3 linked regions of the Homo sapiens genome follow. The protein of the gene in region 2 purifies or fractionates together with the protein of the main gene of each other region. This does not show direct contact. Each region holds a gene or a part of one and is shown on either strand. Other genes may lie near its edges.

Region 1 (3,653 bases), on a different chromosome or scaffold from region 2:
TACTAAAAATACAAAAATTAGCTGGGTGTGGTGGCAGGTGCCTGTAATCCCAGCTACTTGGGAGGCTGAGGCAGGAGAATCACTTGAACCCAGGAGGCAGAGGTTGCAGTGAGCTGAGTTCACGCCATTGCACTCCAACCTGGGCAACAAGAGTGAAACTCTTGTCTCAAAAAAAAAAAAAAAAAGTAGATTTTAAGTGTTCTCACCACAAAAAATAGTATGTGAAGTAACGTGTAGGTTAATTAGCTTAATTTAGCCATTCCCCAATATATACATACTGCAAAACATGTTATACACCATATGTGTACAATTTTTACTTGTCAGATTTAAAAAATAATTTTAAAATGAGCATTCGTTTCAGAAAGGTAAGTTAACTGCTATATACACTCAATCACTAACTTGTGTACATTCTTTTATGTACAACACACATATGTATTCTGAACATAAGTTTGTTTTTGTTTTTTTTTTTGAGATGGAGTTTTGCTCTTGTTGCCCAGGCTGGAGTACAATGGCGCGATCTCAGCTCACCACAACCTCCGCCTCCCAGGTTCAAGGGATTCTCTCCTGCCTCAGCCTCCCTAGTAGCTGGGATTACAGGCATGCGCCACCATTCCCAGCTAATTTTTTGTATTTTTAGCAGAGAAGGGGTTTCTCCATGTTGGTCAGGCTGGTCTCGAACTCCCGACCTCAGGTGATCCGCCCATCTCGGCCTCTCAGAGTGCTGGGATTACAGGCGTAAGCTACCACGCCCGGCCTGAACATAACAGTTTTTAAATGTTTTTTTGGGAATAAGCTTACAAAAGATTGCAAAATAAAAATAATACAAAGGGCAGTCTCTATCCTTCACATACAGAGACTTAGCCATTGTTAACAATTCATGCTGAGAATTTATCCGAAATTAAGTCAGACAACTTGCTTTATCTTCTTGCTACTGCATGCACTCTCCCTCTTCTCTGTGTATATGTGTACACACATGGGAAAACACACAATTTGAACTTTTTTTTTTAACTTTTAACTTCAGGGGTACATGTACAGGATGTGTAAGTTTGTTACTTAGGTAAACGCGTGTCATGGAGATTTGCTATACAGATTCTTTCATCACCCAAGTATTAAGCCTAGTATCTTAGTTGTTTTTCCTGATCCTCAAACAACATTTTAATGAAAACTTTTTAAAATACAAAACTAGAAATAGGCATTAATAGCGTTAGAGCAGCCAGATTGTTTCATTTTTAAATTTGCAAGCATTTTTACATGGGTCTTGTCTACCCACTTTTACTTCCTTACTTGCTCCTGCTGTTACGTTCTCTGTCAATTGTTAAATGTGAAAACCAGGCCAGGCACAGTGGCTCACGCCTGTAACCAGCACTTTGGGAGGCCAAGGTGGGCAGATCGCTTGAGTATAGGAGTTTGAGAACAGCCTGGGCAACAAACATGGCAAGACCGTGTGTGTGCAAAAAGTTATCTGGGCATGGTGATTCATGCCTGTAGGCTCAGCTACTCAGGAGGCTGAGGTGGGAGGATGGCATGAGCCCAGGAGGTCGAGGCTACAGTGAGGTGTGATCATGCCACCTCATTCCAGCCTGGGCGACAGAGCGAGACCCTGTCTCAAAAAAAAAAAAAAAACTAGAAACCAAGGAATGATATGGTTCTGCTCTTTTTTCTCTTTCCACTTCTTGTCCTATTAATTATACTCATTAAATATATATGGATTCTTTCACTTCTTTTTTCCCACTGCTACTATCTTATCGTCCCTGTTTCTAATCTTGATGTGCTCTACCTGTAACCTAGTTACATTTTTGAAATATGAATATGATTTTGCCACTTTTCTGTTTGAAATTCTTCTATAGTTTCCTGTCACTTTAATGTCAATTCTTGATCTGGCTTCCATGCGCCACTCTTTTGCTTTCACTTTACAATCTCCTCGGATTTCCCAACATGTTCTTTCCTTTTGTGAATCAGTCCCTCTTCTTGAATGCACTTTCCCACTACCACAATTAATTTTGTTCGGCTCCTACTTAACCTTACCTTTCAAAGTCCAGATCATTTGTCAGCCTCAGCTTCCCTAGAGAGTTCTCCCTAGCCATTTTCTCCCTAGCCATGTTTAGTTCTATTTAGCTGTCTTTCCCTTGTGTTCACATACTTCACTGTTTTTTTCTTTATCTTTGATTTTCTGCAGTTTGAAAATGATATGCCCAGGTGTAATTTTGAGGAACATTTACTGTGCTTGGTGTTTTCTGAACTTTCTGGATCTGTGGTTTGTTGTCTGACTTAATTTAGGATAAATTCTCAGTGATTGTTTCAAAGATTTCTTTAGCTTTCTCTTCTCCTTCTGGTGTTCTAGTACACTTATACCTTTTGTAATTGTTTCACAGTTCTTGGATATTTTATTCTGTGTTTGTTTGTTTGTTTGTTTTTGGTGGAGGAGGTTCCCATCTTTTTTCTCTTTGTCTTTCGGTTTGGGAAGTGTCTGTTGATAATGTCTTCAAGCTCAGGGATTCTTTCCTCAGCTGTGTCCAGTCTACTATTCTTCAGTTCTGTTACAGTGGGTTTTTAAATTTGTTTTATCGCTAGCATTTCTTTTTGATTCTCTCTTCGAATTTCCATCTCTCTGCTTATATTGCCCATCTATTCTTGCATGCTATCTACTTTATCCATTAGAGCCCTTAGTGTATTAGTCATAGTTGCTTTAATCTCTTCATATGGTAAGTCCAGTATCCCCACCATATCTGAGTCTGGTTTTGGTGCTTACTCTCTTAGTTTTACTTGGTCTCTTCAAACTGCTTTTGCCTTTTAGGATGCCTTGTAATTTTTTTTCTTGATAGCTGGACATGATGTACCTGGGTAAAAAAGGAATTATGGTAAATAGGTCTTTAGTAATTTGGTATTAAGATGTGGGAGAGGGAAAGTGTTTTGCAGTCCTATGATTAGGTTCTTAGTCTTTTAGTGAGCCTGTGCTTCTGAACTGTTAACTTCACAAGTGCTTTTCAGTTTTTTTCCTCTCCTTTGGTGGGACAGGATACTACAGTGGGTTGGAATGGGTATTTCCTTTCTCCCACATGGGAGGCTAGAGCAGTTGCATTTGGATATTCCCCAGGCTGGTTAATCTCTGACAAAACCCCAATAGTTTGGGCTGTGCAAAACCATTTATCTTGAGGGCAGGCCTTAGTGAGAATAACGGAATGTTCTGGCATATTTCAAAATGGTTACTTTTCTTCCCCCTTGCCAGAAGCCTGAGGGGATTTTTCTCAGATCTTTACTGGGAGAACTTGGTAGAGCTCCTGGAGTGTGGGGACCCTCTATGATTGGCTCCCCTACAGTTTTTAGGTCTTAGACTTTTCTACACTGAACTTCCAGCAATTTATCATTTATAGTCAAGGTTTCCTACTCTGGTACTGGTTTCCATGGAGGCTTCTGCTCGTGGGTTTCTGCTCTAATAAGGTGTGATTCTCTGTATTTATCTGTCTGTCTCTCCTATTTTGAGGGCAGCAGTTTACCCATGATCTCACTTCTTTGGTGGATCTAAGAAGAGTTGTCAGTTTTTCCATTTGTTTAGCTTTTTACTTGTTGTTAGGAATAAGTGATAAACTCTAAACTTCTCACATGCCATACCAGAAACTGGAAGTCTCCCTTTCCTTTTTGCCCCACATCTTGAC
Region 2 (3,653 bases):
AAGTGCTGGGATTACAGGCGTGAGCCACCGCGCCCGGCCTGTATTTTTTTTTTTGAGACAGAGTTTCACTTTTGTTGCCCAGGCTGGAGTGCGATGGTGCAGTCTTGGCTCATTGCAGCCTCTGCCTCCCAGGTTCAAGCGATTCTCCTGCCTCAGCCTCCCGAGTAGCTGGGATTACAGGTGCCCACCACCATGCCCAGCTAATTTTTTTTTTTTTTTAGTTGGAGTCACTCTGTCGCCCAGGCTGGAGTGCAATGGCACGATCTCGGCTCACTGCAACGTCTGCCTCCTGGGTTCAAGCGATTCTTATGCCTAGGCCTCCCAAGTAGCTGGGATTACAGGCATGGGCCACCACACCTGGCTAATTGTTTGTATTTTCTGTAGGGGTTTCACCATGTTGGTTAGGCTGGTCTTGAACTCCTGTCCTAGGTGATCCGCCTGCCCTGGCCTCCCGAAGTGTTGGGATTACAGGCATGAGCCACCGTGCCAGGCCAATTTTTGTATTTTTAATGGAGACGGGGTTTTACCATGTTGGGCAGGCTGGTCTCCAACTCCTGACGACAAGTCATTTGCCTGCCTAAGACTCCCAGAGTGCTGGGATTACAGGTGTGAGCCACTGTGGCGGGCTACAATTTTTGGTTTTTTTATTTTTTTTGAGATGGAATTTCACTTTTGTCACCCAGGCTGGAGTGCAGTGGTGCAATCTCGGCTCACTTGCAACCTCCGCCTCCTGGGTTCAAGTGATTCTCCTGCCTCAGCCTCCCCAGTAGCTGGGATTACAGGCGCTCTCCAACATGACCAACTAATTTCTGTATTTTTAGTAGAGATGGGGTTTTACCATTTTGGCCAGGCTGGTCTTGAACTCCTGACCTCAAGTGATCCGTCCACCTTGGACTCCCAAAGTGCTGGGATTACAGGTGTGATGCACGGCACCCGGCCAACATTTTTTAAAAAAATTAGCTGGGCATGGTGGTGTGCACCTGTAGTCTCAGCTACCTTGGAGGCTGAGGTGGGAGAATCATTTCAGTCCAGGGCCCAGGAGTTCAAGGCTACAATGAGTTATCGATCTTGCCACGGCGCTGCAGCCTGGGTGACAGAGCAAGAGACCCTGTCTCTTTTTTTTTTTTTTTCACATGGAATTTTGCTCTTGTCCAGGCTGGAGTGCAGTGGCGTGATCTCGGCTCACTGCAATCCCTGCCTCCTGGGTTCAAGTGATTCTCCTGCTTAAGGCTCCCTAGTAGCTGGGATTACAGGCGTCTGCCACCACGCCTGGATTATTTTTAGTAGAGATGGGGTTTCACCATGTTGTCAAGGCTGGTCTCGAACTCCTTACCTCAGGTGATCCATCCGCCTCGGCCTCCCAAAGTGTTGAGATTACAGGCGTGAGCTACCACACCTGGCCTGACCCAGTCTCTTATAAAAAGAAAAGAAAAAAAAAAGGCCGGGGACAGTGCATCATTCCTACAGCCCAGCACTTTGGGAAGCCGAGGGGAGAATCACTGGATCCTAGGAGTTCAAAACCATCATGGGCAACACAGGGAGATCTATTTCTTTTTCTTTCTTTCTGTTTTTTTTTTTTTTTTTTTTTGAGACAGAGTCTCGCTCTGTTGCCAGGCTGGAGTGCAGTGGCACGATCTTGGCTCACTGCAGCCTCCTCCTCCCAGGTTCAAGGAATTCTTTTGCCTCAGCCTCCTTAGTAGCTGGGACCACAAGTGCGCACCACCACACCCAGCTAAGTTTTGTATTTTTAGTAGAGACGGGGTTTCACCATGTTGGCCAGGATGGTCTCAATTTTTTTTTTTTTTTTTTTCCCGAGACAGAGTCTCGCTCTGTCGCCCAGGCTGGAGTGTAGTGGCGGGATCTCCGCTCACTGCAAGCTCTGCCTCCTGGGTTGACGCTATTCTCCTGCTTCAGCCTCCCCAGTAGCTGGGACTACAGGCGCCCGCCACCACACCCGGCTAATTTTTTGTATTTTTAGTAGAGACGGGGTTTCACCGTGTTAGCCAGGATGGTCTCGATTTCCTGACCTCGTGATCCACCCGCCTCGGCCTCCCCAAGTGCTGGGATTACAGGCGTCAGCCACCGCGCCCGGCCCAGTCTCTATCTCTTGACCTCGTGATCCACCCACCTCAGCCTCCCAAAGTGCTGGGACCGTGCCTGGCCAGGGAGATCCATTTCTACAAAAAATTTAAAAATTAGCTGGGCATGGTGGTGTGTGCTTGTAATCCCAGCTACTTGGGTGGCTGAGATGGGAGGATCATTTGAGCCCAGAAAGTAGAGGCTACAGTGAGCTGTGATTGTGCCACTGTACCCAGCCTGGGCCACAGAGCAAGACCTTGTCTCAAATAATAATAATAATAATAGTAAACAAATAAGTTAACAAACTTCAAAATACCTGATTTCTGTTGAATTTGAAATTGTGATGCATTCATTGCTATGCTGATAATTCTTCAATGTCTCTTCTGTTATAGGTAGAATTGGGCTATTTGCTGAAGCTTCTTGGTGGCCCTTGCTAGCCCAGGAAGAAACTTACATTTTGATTTTTTTGTACCATGGCTTTGGTTCACAAATTGCTGCGTGGTACTTATTTTCTCAGAAAATTCTCTAAGCCAACTTCTGCCTTGTATCCATTTTTGGGTATTCGCTTTGCAGAGTATTCCAGTAGTCTTCAGAAACCAGTGGCTTCTCCTGGCAAAGCCTCCTCACAGAGGAAGACTGAAGGGGATTTGCAAGGAGATCACCAGAAAGAAGTTGCTTTGGATATAACTTCTTCTGAGGAGAAGCCTGATGTTAGTTTCGATAAAGCAATTAGAGATGAAGCAATATACCATTTTAGGCTTTTGAAGGATGAAATTGTGGATCATTGGAGAGGACCGGAAGGCCACCCTCTGCATGAGGTCTTGCTGGAACAAGCCAAGGTTGTCTGGCAATTCCGGGGGAAAGAAGATTTGGATAAGTGGACAGTGACTTCTGATAAGACGATTGGAGGCAGAAGTGAAGTGTTTTTGAAAATGGGCAAGAATAACCAAAGTGCACTGCTATATGGAACTCTGAGCTCTGAGGCGCCTCAGGACGGGGAGTCTACCCGAAGTGGGTACTGTGCAATGATATCCAGGATTCCAAGGGTAGGTGAGGCCCAGGAGCCATCGTTTTCTAGTAAACAGGGGTGAACTTCATTGTAGCATAAACTATAGAAGATAGCTTTTGTTTCTGTAAATGAAAACACCTGGCATGTTATATTTGGCACCTCACCTGTGTCTGGGGATAAGTAACTATTGGCACAAGTGTGAAGTGGAAGCACAAGGGGGAAGTGGTTTCTGAGGAGGAGGAGTTAACTTGTTTCTGCGCATTGCTTTGGGCCAGGAACGAGCATTGTTATGTTTCAGGAATCCTGAGAGGTTAGACATTTGAAAGATTTTTGGAGAGATTTTCATCTCCTCTAAAAAAGACCACAACCTCTGTAATGACCAGGGGTTTTGTAGAGTGGATGTAGGGTTAGCCTGTGGCTTTCTTTTTTTTTTTTTGAAACGGAGTCTTGCTCTGTCGCCCAGGCTAGAGTGCAGTGGCGTGATCTCGGCTCACTGCAACTTCCGCCCTCCAGGTTCAAGCGATTCTCCTGCCTCAGCCTCCTGAGTAGCTGGGACTACTGGTGC
Region 3 (3,653 bases), on a different chromosome or scaffold from region 2:
TCTAGCCTGGGCGACAGAGCAAGACTCTTGTCTCAAAAAAATAAATAAATAAATAAATATAGGAAAAATGTGTACAATACTATTATTGAAAAAGGTTACAAAACAGCATATGTACTAAAATACATTGAATTGTCCACTTCATGAGTAAATTTTAGGGTACATGAATTATATTTCAATAAAGCTATCAACCCCCAAGTGAATAATCTCACTTTTTTTTTTTTAAAGAGACCAGATCTGACTATGTTGCCCAGGCTGGTCTGAAACTCCTGGATTCAAGCCATCTGCCCCCCTCAGCCTCCCAAAATGCTGGAATTACAGGCATGAGCCACTGCACCAGGCCTAATCTCACCTTCTGTTTCACTAAAAAATATATAGGCCAGGGGTGGTGGCTCACATCTGTAGTCCCAGCACTTTGGGAGGCTGAGGTGGGTGGACTGCTTGAGTCCAGGAGTTTGAGATCTGCCTGGGTAACATGGCGAAACCCCATCTCTACAAAAAATACAAAAATTAGCTGGATGTGGTGGTATGCGCCTATAGTCCTAGCTACCGAGGAGGCTGAGGTGGGAGGATCACTTCAGCTCAGGAGGCAGAGGTTGCAGCAAGCCAAGATTGTGCCACTGCACTTCAGCCTGGGTGACAGAGTAAAATCTCATCTCAAAAATTATACACACACACACACACACACACGTACATGTAAACAGTAATAATTACATATAAATAACAATAGTTAATTAATATAATATATATGTGTATAATGCATATGTATGTCCCTGGAGGAAGAGTGACTAAAATGTTAAAAATAATTATAGTTATTTCTTGATAGTGGGAGGGTAGTGATTTTTCTTTTTTTAAAAAAAAAAAAACTTTTAGGTTCAGGGGTACATGTGAAGGCTTTTTACACCAGTAAACTCATGTCACAGGGATTTGTTGTACAGAATACTTCATCACCGAGGAATTAAGCCCAGTACCCAAGACTTATCTTTTCTGCACCTCTCCCTCCTCCCACTCTCCACTCTCAAGTAGACTACAGTGTCTGTTGTTTCCTTCTTTGTGTTCATAAGTTCGCAGATAAATACCATAGAAGTGATTTTTTGTTGTGCTTTTGAGCATAGGTATTATTTTACAATGAAGGTAATCTTTATTATCTAACTAAAATACTTATTTAAAAAATCTTAGATACAAACTATATAAAAAAATTAAGAGTTCTATGTGCTTTTAGATAGAAAATTAGTCAAAATAATCTATCAACTATTAACTACCTCATAACCTAGATGTTGTATCAACTGTTCTAAGAATCTGCAATAAACAAGTTTCAGTTTGTCTGCATTCCTTAAAAACATTCCTAACAATTTACATCAGAAGCACTGTTTAACATGTTTCACATTTAAATGTTTTGATTCTTCCACCTATAATTCTCAGAAAAACCTGCAGTTATTTGCCACTTTGGAAAATTCACCATAAATTGCTACACAGTGACTTTCCTTACAACAGCAAAATTTTATATTTAAAATCTATTAATTGCTTGGATTTTCAAACTTTGCTTACATTTCAGAAACAAAAAAACTAGAGTAGAATCAGAAAATATGCTTACGTTAGTTCCAATGTTTGAAAACCTTCAAAGATTAAGAATTGCAAACACTATCAATCACAAATTGGAATTATAACACCAAATGAGGTGATCTGATTACTTCTTACCTTTCGTATTTGGCAGAGTCATGTTGACAATTACATACCTGTCATGTAGAAGTCTTTTATAGTTAGCTGAGGTGGAACAAGTGGGTCAGCAAGAAGCTGCTGGTTCACTAGCTGCACAAAAAAGAAGAGATCAACAATAATATGGAAAACTAGTACTGTTACACCAGTAGATACAACATTATGAAAACTGCTCATAGGCGAGCTGTTACCTTTGAGAGCTCATTTGCTTGCTGGAAGTAATTAGCCCCTTCAATATCATCATATCGAACAAGATTAGGAGAGACTTCTTCCAATCTGTTCCTTACTTGATCCAGAGTATCATATGGAAGAGTCATTCCAGCAATCTACAACATGTCAGGTCCCCAAAAACAACAAAAAGCTTTAATACTTAAAAATATCAAATAATAGATAATTGTAACTATGGTGAAATAATGCAGCACTACTGAAAAACCTATTGGTGTCCATTAGTAGACATACATTTATGAAGGAAGCAGTTAAGCAGGGAACACAAATATCAAAAATTCTAATTCATTCACAGCTGTCAGTACATTAGTGACTCTATGAAATGAAGAGACAATACTATGCTAAATCCAAATGTTTTTGCTAACCTGTTATTAAAATACATAAAGTTTACAATGTGTTATTATTTTAAAAGTCAGGATGCTTACTTTTACATCAATAAAGAGCTAACAGATGTATTTTCAGGCAAAAGACAAGTCAACAATTTTCAACAATAAAAGCACCAATTTCAGGCCAGGTGCAGTGGCTCACACCTGTAATCCCAGCACTTCGGGAGACCGAGGTGGGAGGACTGCTTGAGGCCCAGGAGTTCAAGACCAGCCTGGCCAACATGGCGAAACCCCATCTCTACTAAAAATATAAAAATTAGCCAGGCTTGGTGGTACATGCGTGTAATCCCAGTTACTCAGGAAGCTTGCGCCCGGGAGGTGGAGGTTGCAGTAAGCTGAGATCACGCCACTGCACTCCAGCCTGGGCAACAGAGAAAAACTCTGTCTCAAAAATAAATAAAATAAAATAAAAGCACCAATTTCAAGTTCCTTTATTTTTTAAGAGACAGGGTCTTGCTCTGTCCCTCAGGCTGGAGTGCAGCGGTGCAATGAGAGCTCACTGTAACCTTGAATTCCTGTTTCTGAATACATGTTTTCTATAGAAATTATTCAAATCATCTCTGCATTTCAGACTGGCATCTTCCTTGACTTTGAAAATCATTCTAACAGGCTAAAATATCAAATATGCCTTTAGTAGCATCACTAAGAAATGACTCAGAAATTATACCTCAGAGAGTGCTCTTATAATTTTCCAGTCTTCTCTTGCCAAGCCAGGAGGTGTCACTGCTACCTTAGTCTGCTGAGCTCTACCCTCAGTGTTGACATATGTAGCAGACTTCTCTGTGTAAGCAGCTCCTGGGAGAATAACATCAGCTATGGGAGCCCCAACATCACCATGATGTCCTGCACAAAGATGGAAAATGGTAAACCAAAATTTTATTAAAAACTGATTTTCTACTGTACATGAAGATAGTATATATCATTTTAAATCCCATTTTGTAAAGTCACAAAAGTTTTTAAAACTAAAATGAAACAGTAGTGAAGTAATAAAAATTAAAGCCCACCTCAACCCTAATTCAACTCCCTTCCCAAAGAAAATTATTATTATTTTTTTGAGATGGAGTCTCGCTCTGTCGCCCAGGCTGGAGTGCAGTGGTGCAATCTTGGCTCACAGCAAGCTCTGCCTCCTGGGTTCATGCCATTCTTCTGTCTCAGCCTCCCAAGTAGCTGGGACTACAGGTGCCTGCCACCACACTCAGCTAATTTTTTGTATTTTTAGTAGAGACAGGGTTTCACCGTGTTTAGCCAGGATGGTCTTGATCTCCTGACCTTGTGATCCACCCGCCTCAGCCTCCCAAAGTGCTGGGATTACAGGCATGAGCCACCGCG

Evidence for each region.
Region 1: the proteins of NDUFAF1 (region 2) and TIMMDC1 purify together in Homo sapiens (affinity purification with mass spectrometry; 4 studies listed by BioGRID and IntAct, with this or other methods). This does not show direct contact.
Region 3: the proteins of NDUFAF1 (region 2) and NDUFS1 purify together in Homo sapiens (affinity purification with mass spectrometry; one study listed by BioGRID and IntAct). This does not show direct contact.

What each region holds. Positions count from the first base shown.
Region 1 is NC_000003.12:119,504,912-119,508,564, forward strand, and holds part of TIMMDC1 (complex I assembly factor TIMMDC1, mitochondrial isoform 1 precursor), read left to right. Parts: intron 1-3,653.
Region 2 is NC_000015.10:41,395,959-41,399,611, reverse strand, and holds part of NDUFAF1 (complex I intermediate-associated protein 30, mitochondrial precursor), read left to right. Parts: intron 1-2,471; 5' UTR 2,472-2,552; coding exon 2,553-3,125; intron 3,126-3,653. UniProt on the Homo sapiens protein: As part of the MCIA complex, involved in the assembly of the mitochondrial complex I.
Region 3 is NC_000002.12:206,124,806-206,128,458, forward strand, and holds part of NDUFS1 (NADH-ubiquinone oxidoreductase 75 kDa subunit, mitochondrial isoform 1 precursor), read right to left. Parts: intron 3,168-3,653; coding exon 2,992-3,167; intron 2,040-2,991; coding exon 1,905-2,039; intron 1,807-1,904; coding exon 1,734-1,806; intron 1-1,733.